Homo sapiens: one gene and its partners. The protein of the gene in region 1 binds, or shares a complex with, the protein of each later gene. Each region holds a gene or a part of one and is shown in the gene's direction. Other genes may lie near its edges.

Region 1 (3,748 bases):
AGCCAGGATGGTCTCGATCTCCTGACCTCGTGATCCGCCCGCCTCGGCCTCCCAAAGTGCTGGGATTACAGGCGTGAGCCACCGTGCCCGGCCCATGAACTCATTGTTTCAATCAGCCACATAATTTTTGATCCTCAGACACCTTTAGCACAGATGGAACAGATGGCAAACTATAACTGCTTTTAATCAGTTACAAGCTGGTTTTGGAGTTTAGGACTCAACTGGGGGTGGAGGGACAAATCCTGCTTGATGTCCTGATGTCACTTATAGGTAAGGTCCAGGAGATTCAGCATCTATGCACTCACAGAGTTCATTGTTTACATCCATTACATGGAGAAAATATTTCTTTTCTTTTTTTTTTTTTTTGGAAACAGTTTCGCTCTTGTCGCCCAAGCTGGAGTGCAATGGCACGATCTCGGCTCACTGCAAACTTTGCCTCCCAGATTCAAGCGATTCTCCTGCCTCAGCCTCATGAGTAGCTGGGATTACAGGCGCTCACCACCATGCCCGGCTAATGTTTGTGTTTTTAGTAGAGACGGGATTTCACCATGTTGACCAGGCTGTTCTGAACTCCTGACCTCAGGTGATCCACCCACCTCAGCCTCCCAAAGTGCTGGAATTATAGGCGTGAGCCACCGTGCCCAGCCCCAGAAAATATTTCTATAACAAACTCTTGACAAATAAGTATGTCTATGCAAGATGACAAATACAAGTTTTATGAAGTCTCAGTCCATGAAAAAATATTTTTACCAGCTGGGCACAGTGGCTCACGCCTGTAATCCCAGCACTTTGGGAGGCCGAGGCGGGCGGATCATGAGGTCAAGAGATTGAGACCATCCTGCCCAACATGGTGAAACCCCGTCTCTACTAAAAATACAAAAATTAGCTGAGGACGGTGATGCGTGCCTGTAGTCCCAGCTACTCAGGAGGGTGAGGCAGAGGAATCGCTTGAACCCGGGACGTGGAGGTTGCAGTGAGCTGAGATCGTGGCACCACACTCCAGCCTGGTGATAGAGCGAGACTCCATCTCAAAAACATTTTTTTCTTTTACCTGTGTCCTAATACATATTTATAAAAACCTGGGGGATATGAGTTAGAATAATATGTAACTGCATTTCTGTCTGTTTGTGTTTGAAACATTTAACAGTGAAATGTTAGACTGGGTTATTTGTATCTGTGAGCCACAGTCTCTTTAGTTTTACACAGTCCTTTACAGGACAGTCTTGGCAAAAGTGTGTAAGAAATGCGGAGATTGAGGTTGGCTCCTTTGGAGAAATGTATTTATTGGTAACCTTTGATAAAATCAAAATTTGTGCTCCAGCTCCTCCTTATCTCTGGGACTGCTCAACGTTGTTTGTTTATAATTTTCTTTTTTCTAGAGAGAGTCTCGCTCTGTCACCCAGGCTGGAATGCAGTGGGGAGATTGTAGCTCACTGTAACTCTTGGGTTCAAATGATCCTCCTGCCTCAGCCTCCCCAAATGCTGGGATTTACAGGCCTCAACATTTTTTGTTTTTTGGGATGGAGTTTTGCTCTTGTTGCCCAGGCTGGAGTGCAATGGCAAGATCTCCACTCACTGCAACCTATGCCTCCTGGATTTACAGGCGCGTGCCACCACACCCGGCTAATTTTTGGGTTTTTAGTAGAGACAGAATTTCGCCATGTTGACCAGGCTGGTCTCGAACTCCTGACCTCAGGCGATCCACTTGCCTTGGCCGCCCAAAGTGCTGGGATTACAGGTGTGAGCCACTGCTCCCGGTCATTTTTTTTTTTTTTTTTTTTGAGACGGAGTCTTGCTCTGTCGCCCAGGCTGCAGTGCAGTGGCGCGATCTCGGTTCACTGCAACCTCCGCCTCCCAGGTTCAAGCGATTCTCTTCCCTCAGCCTCCCGAGTAGCTGGTATTACAGGAGCCTGCGACCACGCCTAATTTTTTTTGTATTTTTAGTGAAGATGGGGTTTCACCATGTTGGCTAGACTGGTCTCGAACTCCTGACCTCACACAATCCACCCACCTAGGCCTCCCAGAGTGCTGGGATTAAAGGCTTGAGCCACGGCCCTCGGCCTTTTTTTCTTTTTATCAGCTGAATTTAAGATTCAAAACATTTTTTAATTTTATTTTTTAAATTTTATGTTTTTACTTTAACAAATATAGAAAAGTGCACACTTCATAATCTTAACAAACTCCCCACAATTCTCGATAGGAAGTGTGTGTAGGGCACAAACACATCACGCTGTAGATGGCAGGATTCTGGAAAAGAACAAAATCCTTTGAGCTCAGGCGCTGAGTCCCGCCACCCGTCTGGCAGCCCAGGCTAGGGTCCGCGCCTGCGCAATGGGAGCCGGCCGGCCAGGGAGGAAGTCGGAATGAAGGAAACCCCGCCCCTTTCCCGGCTTCCTCCTCCCCTCTACTCTACCCAGCTTGCGCTCCCCAGCCGCAAGTCGGCCGCGCTTTGCCCGTCAGCGCTTGGAGCTTTCTGCGTCGCTTCCCGCTGCGCCTGCGCGGTCCCGCCTCGCCCCACGCGCGGGCTCGCGCTTCGGTTTCCCCAGACCTGCTCGCAGCACCCTGCTGTCTTCCCGGTCCGGCCCGCTGCCCGCGGCGCCAGCACCATGGTGGGTACCGTGACGTCAAAAGGGGGCGCCCTCGGGGACCTCGCATGGTTGGGGCGGGGGATCTGGCCTTTGTACCCCTAGGCTGGAGTTAGGTCCGGAGTTTTTATCTTCATCTTTAGTACTGTACTGTTTCTCAGGTTCATTGAGGAGGCACTGAGAACAAATGGGATATTTTTTCCATGATGAGGGAAAAAACCCCAACCCTGAGAGAGATTCAGTGAGGATAGCGGGAGACGGAAAAGTTAGACCTCAGAGCACTTCTCTGCCAGGCAAGCTTCGGCAGGGTGCGGGTGGGATATTTTCTACAATTCATTGAAAGGAGTGGGCAGGTACCCGAGAAAGGTGGTCGACTGAGAGAGCACAGTGGGGAGGCCGACGTATGCAGGGCAGAGTCTCTCTGGGACTTTAAGTGATGGGCTCAGTGCAGTGTGCAGAATAATTTGGGCTCCAGCCTTTCAGCTCTGTCAACCAATTATTCTTTCCTGTGAAATTTTGAGAACTGTCAGGGATGCAGTGGGGTTCACAATACCAGTATTTGGTAATACTGTCAAAGGACACTCCTCCCTACCATGCTCCTTCCCACATGATGGTTTTCCCCCTCTCTCCCAATAGCTCTTCTATTCTTTTTTCAAGTCCCTTGTGGGCAAGGATGTGGTCGTGGAACTAAAGAATGACCTGAGGTAGGTACCTGTTCCAACAAGTCTGTTGGGGGTGGGTGTGCCCAGGGCCCTGGAACCTCTTTAATTTGAGAAATATTTCAGGGCTAGGCGAGGTGGAAGATGTACAGAAGAAATAAATGGATAGGGTGCAGTGGCTCAAGCCTGTAATCCCAGCACTTTGGGAGGCTGAGGAAGGAGGAAAGCTTGAGCCCAGGAGTTTGAGGCTGCAGTGAGCAGTGATTACTCCATTGCACTCTAGCCCAGGCAATAGAGCAAGACCCCATCTCTAAGAAAAATTTTAAAATTTAGCAATAAATAAATGCCTTGTGCCTTAAATTTACAGATAAGCTTAGAGATTGTATCGTGTATTGGAAAACAATACAAAGCAATATATAGTTTAAAGAGTAAATACAGGTCAGGCGCAGTGGCTCACGGGCTGGACGTGTGGCTCATGCCTGTAATCCCAGCACTTTGGGAGGC
Region 2 (3,748 bases), on another chromosome or scaffold:
ACTCCATATTTTGTTTCTCTTCCAAGTTACAGATTTCATTCTCATTTTATTTCATTCTCTTTTTTATTTCATTCTCATTTTATATATTTTGACTTTCAGAAGATAAAACAGTTTAAGAACTTGAGAGGTTTAACCATCAAAACCAATGTTAGTTGATATTTCTTCAGAAACTTGAATACCATGTGAGTTACTCTGTTATGCTAGACCCATGTCTTCTTTTATTCAATACTAAGCTTTCATAAAACTCTCCCTGATTATTTCCTTCAAGTTCTGGTTTTAATTAGTATAGTCACATTTGTATCTACCTTACTGGGAGAATTAAACAATAAATCCATATGATACACATTAAACAATACATGTGAGACACACAGAACACTGGTAACTAGTATGTACTCATTAGGTGTTACATGTAACTACTAGTTAAATTTTTAGTATATTTATGGGACTGATTTGAATCTGAAAAATGGCAAATTATATTTACTTGTGTATAATAGTATAGAATGTTATGGTTTAGTGGTCTGGCTCAGGAGCTAGCCTTTTGTGGTTCATCTCCTGGCTCTGCCACTTACTACCCATGTGATCATAAGACACACCATTCTGTGCCTCAGTTTCTTCTTTGAAATGGGGCTAATTATAGTACTAAATCAAAGGGTAGAGATGAGTTGAGAAAATGTGTACAGTGTGTTTAGCACACTGCCTAGTGCTGGCATATAGCATATAGTGATACTATTACATTGCTGTAGTTGGTATGTATGGTTCTTCCTTATTTATGTATATTTGGCTATCATTTTCCCTTAAATATCCTTTGTCTTAGTTTATACCTTTAGCTGCTGGTCTACATAAGCTTTTATGCTACTTACTTGGAGATAGTCACATTAGTACATAGGTGTCCTTTGCAACTGCTGTCAACTCTACATATGAGTGAGATGTGTGGTGCAGGTCCCCCCACCCCAGCCAAATAACCAAGAGGTAAATTGTGTACCCTCGAATACTGTTGGTTATAAAAAAGGCATTTTATTTGCCGTCGTATAGGTACTTGTATTGGAATACCTGGCAACTAAAATGACTGTGAGGTTAAATTTACACTTTCAGGTAAACCAGAATATTTCTCTTTTTCTCCTGAATATTTTCTTTACAGGGAACACTGAAAGGTTTTGACCAGACCATTAATTTGATTTTGGATGAAAGCCATGAACGAGTATTCAGCTCTTCACAGGGGGTAGAACAAGTGGTACTAGGATTATACATTGTAAGAGGTGACAACGTGTAAGTAAAATATATCTGTTAAAATTATAAATGATACTGCCTTACTTTATGGAGAAGAGGCTTTCCCCAAAATACCCTACTGTATTGTCCATACATAGTTAATAGAATCTTGCATTCATTTCTTTCGTAAATATACCTTTTCTTATGTTTGTGTAAAATAAGGCATATGTATACATTTTATGTCAGCACTTCTTTAGGTTTCAACCAAAGCTGTCTCTCTACAAATTAAACTTTTACCTGAGATTTGCCCATTTTTCTACTAGTTAAGTAGCCTGGGTAGAGTCCAGAAAGGGCTCTGCCTTATATTAAATACTTCATTAGAGAGACTTCTTAAAACGTTCTTTCAAATACCCAGAATTTTAGAGGAACATATTTCTAGAGTCCAAGGCCAAAGTTTGAAAAATGTTTTGAAATCTCTGATTTGAACAATATTAATTCATGCTCAATAACATAGGTGTATTTATAAATAAGTACTTACTCGTTATTCATTTTCTTTTAATTTTTTAGTATCATTGACACACTTAAGATGTCCCTGTGGCCTCAGTTTACTTGGGACAGACAGATATAAAAGTTCAAGAGTAATTGGCCAGGCATGGTGCCTGTAATCCCAGCACTTTGGGAGTCTGAGGCAAGTGGATCAGGTCAGGAGTTCAAGACCGGCCTCGCCAACATGGCAAAACACTGTCTCTACTAAAAATACAAAAATTAGCCAGGCTTGGTGGCGTGCGCCTGTAGTTCCAGCTACTTGGGAGGCTGAGGTGGGAGAATCACTTGAACCCAGGAGGTAGAGGTTGCAGTGAGCCGAGATCACCCTACTGCACTCCAGCCTGGGTGACAGATTGAGACACCAATTCAAAAAAAAAAAGGCCGGGCACAGTGGTTCAAGCATGTAATCCCAGCACTTTGGGAGGTGGAGGCGGGTGGATCACTTGAGGTCAGGAGTTCGAGACCAACTTGGCCAATGTGGTGAAACCGCGTCTTTACTAAAAATATAAAAATTAGCCAGGCGTGGTGGCGCAAGCCTGTAATCCCAGCTACTCGGGAGGCTGAGTCAGGAGAATTCGCCTGGGAGGTGGAAGTTGCAGTGAGCCGAGATCGCAGCACTGCATTCCAGCCTGGGCAACAAGAGCAAAACTCCGTGTCAAAAAATAAAAAAGAAAAGTGGCTAATGTGGTTCACGTGCCGTGGCTCATGCCTATAATCTCAGCACTTTGAGAGGCCAAGGTGGGTGGATCACCTGAGCCCAGGAGTTCAAGACCAGCCTGGCCAGCATAGTGAAACCCCGTCTCTCCTTAAAATAGAAAAATTAGCCTGGTGTGGTGGTGCATGCCTGTAATCCCAGCTACTTGGGAGGCTGAGGCAGAAGAATTTCTTGAACCTGGTAGATGGAGGTTGCAGTGAGCCAAGGTTGCGCCTTTGCACTCCAGCCTGGGCAAAAAGAGTGAAACTCCATCTTGAAAAAAAAAAGAAAAGTGGCTGATGTGACAGAGGAACTGAATTTTAAATTTTATTTAATTGTAATTAATTTTAATAGTTACATGTGGCCAGTATTAGTATAGTTATAGAGGCTAGAAGAATGCCAAATCAGTTTTCTAGTGAGTACTACACTGAATCAAAATATAGTTGGAAAGAAGCAAAAGATACATTAGCAATTTTAAGCTAGAACATTTAACAAATTCTAGGGGACTAACTGTCCCCTGGAATAACTTAAAAAGTGCAGGAATAATTTACTCATTTAAGTTGTTTATGTTAGCATCACCTTTAGATGAATAAATAATTTGATCTGTAATCAAAAATCAAGAGTTTATAAAATATTTTAGAGATGACTTTTAGGTGGAGTTACAAGGTGAGCTGTAAGTAATGAGAGAGAGACAGAGCAGATAGGGCCCAGGTCTCTGGATCAGAACAACACTGTTTATATTGGAGCTGTGCATAGTAATTGATTTTAAGGTTTCTCCTACTTAAAACAATTTTTTTTTCTTGAACTTCAGTGAAAAAAGTCTTGTGCTAGAGCCAGCTTCTACTGGCCCATGAAAGCATATTGTTATATTTTAAGGAATTTTACAAGCTGGTTAATTGATGTCTTGTTAGTAGCTTGAAATTGGCCGTGGTGGGAGTGTTTGCACAATGGATATTAGTAAATGCAGCAAATCAGTCTCCCGCTTTTTTTCCAGAGAGCTGGTTTTTAAAAATGTATCAGCATTTCCCTGCTTACCATAGGGATTTTAAATGATACTGAATATTATCATTTAAAATTTAAGAATATTTAAGAGTGGAATTGAGGCCTTTAGTTTGAGAAAACTTAATTCATTCTGCCAGAGTTTCATATTTTTCATTTATTAGATGATTTAAGACTTTATATACTTTAAAGCAAAATTTGGCAAATCCCTTATTACTAGTATTCGTCTTTAGAATTTGGCCGGGCACAGTGGCTCACACCTGTAGTCCCAGCACTTTGGGAGGCTGAGGCTGGCGAATTACC
Region 3 (3,748 bases), on another chromosome or scaffold:
GGACGGGCTCTCGGCCCTGCCTTGGGAGGAGACAGGCAGGCAGAATAATGCCCGGGGTGCCTGCTTCCCGAGATTGGTGGTGCCTGCTTCCCGAGATTGGTGGTGCCTGCTTCCTGAGATTGGCGTGGGCGTGCAGAGGGCAGCACCGTAAGGGCTGTGGGTTGGTGTCTGGAGGAAGCACCTGAAAGATGACAGGGGTAAGAAGGAGAGCAGGGAGGGGGTGGCTGCGGGACGCCCCTCAGTGAGCGCAGAGGTGGAGCTGCTGCTGGGCCTCGGCTGCAGGAGCCTGCAGGGCAGTGGAGGGGAGTCCCAGGCAGAGAGGGTGGGCTGGCCTCTGCTGGGGACACACAGCTCCCCCTTCACCCTTCTCAGTGTCACCAGACACTGCGGAGCAGGATCAGATGGCAGAGATCACCACCGGGTCAGAGAGCCCTAACCTAAGTTGGCAAGTTGTGGCCCAAGGCGGCGAAGCTTGAGGGGTGGGGCAGGCAGCGTGGAGAGAGAAGCCACAGAGACCGTCTCAGCCCCCGAAGCCTTTGCACCTGGGTCTCAGAGCATCTCTGTTGCCTGCTCCCCGCAAGCCCTAAGCAGCAGGGCTGGGATTTGTTCTTTTGTATTCCGTGAACTCACTGAGGGACTCAGCACAGGTCAGGCAGCGCAGTCATCACCGCTGTCAGAGCGGAGCACTCTGTCTCCCCTACAGGAAGCCCTGTCCCCATCAGCCATCACTGCCTGTCCCATCCCTGGCCCTGGCACCCACGCATCCCTTCCCTGTCTTTGTGGATTGGCCTGTCCTGGACATTTCATAGAAATGGGATCTCACGGTGCGCAGCCTTCTGTGTCTGGCGTCTCTCACTGAGCGTGACGTCCTCAGGTGCGTCCTCAGGCGCATCCGCGCTGTGGCCTGCGCCAGCCTCGCTCCTCTTCCTGGCTGGTGGTCCCACCGCGTACACGTGCCGCCGCCTGTTTTGCTGCTGCTTTTGAGCTGAGAATTGTTTTTATGACTTTTAAATAGCTAGAAAGGGATCAAAACAAGACTGTCTCACGATGTGGAAATTACATGAAATTCACAGTTCAGTGCCTGTGAGTAGAGCTGACCGGCCGCAGTTCAGCCACACATGGACTCATTACCGAAGCTGCCTCCACCCAGGCAGCCCGAGCCAGCAGCTGTGACCGGCACCCTGTGGCCCACACGGCCAGAAGTGTTTGCCATCTGGCCCCCCGCAGACGTGGTCTGCTGCCTGTGGTGGAGATCACTCTGGAGGCGGCTGTCATCGGCCACTCCCGGGAGCCCTCTCCTACCCTCAGTCCTCCATCCCTGGAGCAGTTAGCCCCATACCTGGGCCATGCTGGGGCGGGCCCTGCGCCCAGGACGGATCTCATGCCTTCTCTTTTCTCTCCCCCGGTGATTTCTCCAAGCCAGTGGAATCCTGAAGGGCTTCGACCCACTCCTCAACCTTGTGCTGGACGGCACCATTGAGTACATGCGAGGTGAGTGGGGTGGCGGCCGAGGCAGGCAGCGGGACGAGGGGGATAGTGGGGTGAGGGGGGCAGCGGGACGAGGGGGGCAGTGGGACGAGGGGGGCAGCCGTGGGGCTCCCTGCTGGCTCTTCTTCTCTCAAACCCACAAAACCTCTGAGTTACCAACGTGAAGCCTCGTGGCGGCCGATGGACGGGCTTGAGCGCTCACTGGTCCTAGACGTCCTCACAAAGCAGGAAACCCCATTGTTGTGGGGCCTGGAGAGACGGGAGCTGCCAGCTCACCCACTGGTCTCTACACACTGACGGGGCGCCCGGCACAGTTAGAGGACAACCTTTTTAAATGTTTTATTATTTTAATTTTTGTTAAATTGGTGACGTGAGAGGCCAGGCACAATGGCTCACACCTATAATCCCAGCGCTTTGGGAGGCCAAGGCAGGAGGATCTCTTGAGGTCAGGAGTTTGAGACCAGCCTGACCAACATGGTGAAACCCCGTCTCCGCTAAAAATGCAAAAAAATTGCTGGGTGTGGTGGCGCATGCCTGTAATCCCAGCTGCTCGGGAGGCTGACGCAGGAGAATCGCTTGAACCTGGGAGGCGGAGGTTGCAGTGAGCCGAGATGGTGCAACTGCACTCCAGCCTGAGTAACAGAGTGAGACTCCGTCTCAAAAAAAAGAGATAAGCTGAGGTCTCACTGTGTTGCCCGGGCTGGTCTCGAACTCCTGGGCTCAAGCCATCCTCCTGCTTCAGCCTCCCACAGTGCTGGGGTTCCAGGCGTGAGCTGTGGCGCCCAGCGGAGAGCAGCCTTGCTGTGGGGTAGTGAGCGTGCCGTGGGGCTCCTCTCGGGCGCCTTTCCTCTTCTGCCCTTGTTAATTCCCGCTATGAACGCAGGGTCCCTGTCTCCTCCCCAGAGGACCCTCCCTCATTTCCCTGCCCCCGCTCGCTCCCCTCCCCAGTGAGGCCGCCAAGTCCTCAGACTCTCCCCCAGAAGCTCCTGCGGCAAGTCCCCAGCTGGCAAGTCCCCATCCCGGCCCGGGCACTGGGGGAATGTCAGGACTTAGGAGAGAGAGGGTCTTGCCCCTTGGATCCATTGATACTGAGACAAGATTTATTCTTGTAGCTGGCCATGGTGGCTCATGCCTGTAATCCCAGCACTTTGGGAGGCCAAGACAGGAGGATCACTCGAGCCCAGGAATTTGAGACCAGCCTGGGCAACATAGTGAGACCCTGTCTCTACAAAAAAAAAAAAAATGTAATTAGCCAGGCATGGCGGTACATGTGCCTGTGGCCCCAGCTACTCAGGAGGCTAAGGCAGGAGGATTGTTTGAGCCCAGGAGGTTGAGGCTGTGAGCTGTGATTGCACTGCTGCACTCCAACCTGAGCAACAGAGCAAGACCTGGTGTCTGAAAAAAAGTTTAAAAACCTGGGCCCCATGGTTCTCCCATGCCCCCACCACTGCAGGACCACAGTAGTGAGGAGTTTTAATCGCCTTCAGCCTCTTGAGAGCTTGTCTTGGGCTTGCTGGCACTTCCCTGGGGTGCCAGCCCACATGGTCCCCACCCCACATGAACAGCCTCTTTATTTTTTTATTTTTTGAGATGGAATCTCGCTCTGTCACCCAGGCTGGAGTGCAGTGGCGCGATCTCGGCTCACTGCAAGCTCCGCCTCCTGGGTTCACACCATTCTCCTGCCTCAGCCTCCCGAGTAGCTGGGACTCCAAGTGCCTGCCACCACGCCCGGCTAATTTTTTTGTATTTTTTAGTAGAGACGGGGTTTCACCAAGTTAGCCAGGATGGTCTCGATCTCCTGACCTCGTGATCCGCCTGCCTTGGCCTCCCAAAGTGCTGGGATTACAGGCGTGAGCCACCGCGCCCGGCCCCCAGCCTCTTTGTTATAGGGTGAATATTGGCCCCCTAGGGCTCCAGGGACCTTGCAGAGACCAGGAGGCCCAGGGTGCCTGTATTCTGGCCGGCCATCTGATAACCTGGTTCCCGGCCCTGGTGCCTGGGCCCCAGTGAGCTCTGAGACGCGGGGTAGCCGGCTATCACCTGGGCCTTCTTGTTCCCATGGTTTGTGGAGTGAGGGAGGGCTGTGGCTGCTGTCTGTGGAGCTGCCACTGGTCTCTAGGGGCCATGGGTCTCAGCCGTGGGAGCCGGGGACCTGCCCCACAGAGCGCATCCCGTCTGAGGTCCCTGCGTGCTCGTGGCGCCTGCAGGGTGCAGGTGGGGAGGTCGGAGCGAGGGTCTTGGGTGGGTGGGGGGTCTCGGA

Evidence for each region.
Region 2: LSM2 (region 1) and LSM8 share a complex: the UniProt entries of both Homo sapiens proteins name them as parts of the precatalytic spliceosome.
Region 3: LSM2 (region 1) and LSM7 share a complex: the UniProt entries of both Homo sapiens proteins name them as parts of the precatalytic spliceosome.

What each region holds. Positions count from the first base shown.
Region 1 is NC_000006.12:31,805,616-31,809,363, reverse strand, and holds the start of LSM2 (U6 snRNA-associated Sm-like protein LSm2), read left to right. Parts: upstream 1-2,397; 5' UTR 2,398-2,606; coding exon 2,607-2,609; intron 2,610-3,221; coding exon 3,222-3,289; intron 3,290-3,748. UniProt on the Homo sapiens protein: Plays a role in pre-mRNA splicing as component of the U4/U6-U5 tri-snRNP complex that is involved in spliceosome assembly, and as component of the precatalytic spliceosome (spliceosome B complex).
Region 2 is NC_000007.14:118,187,140-118,190,887, forward strand, and holds part of LSM8 (LSM8 homolog, U6 small nuclear RNA associated), read left to right. Parts: intron 1-1,138; coding exon 1,139-1,266; intron 1,267-3,748. UniProt on the Homo sapiens protein: Plays a role in pre-mRNA splicing as component of the U4/U6-U5 tri-snRNP complex that is involved in spliceosome assembly, and as component of the precatalytic spliceosome (spliceosome B complex).
Region 3 is NC_000019.10:2,321,868-2,325,615, reverse strand, and holds part of LSM7 (U6 snRNA-associated Sm-like protein LSm7), read left to right. Parts: intron 1-1,419; coding exon 1,420-1,491; intron 1,492-3,748. UniProt on the Homo sapiens protein: Plays a role in pre-mRNA splicing as component of the U4/U6-U5 tri-snRNP complex that is involved in spliceosome assembly, and as component of the precatalytic spliceosome (spliceosome B complex).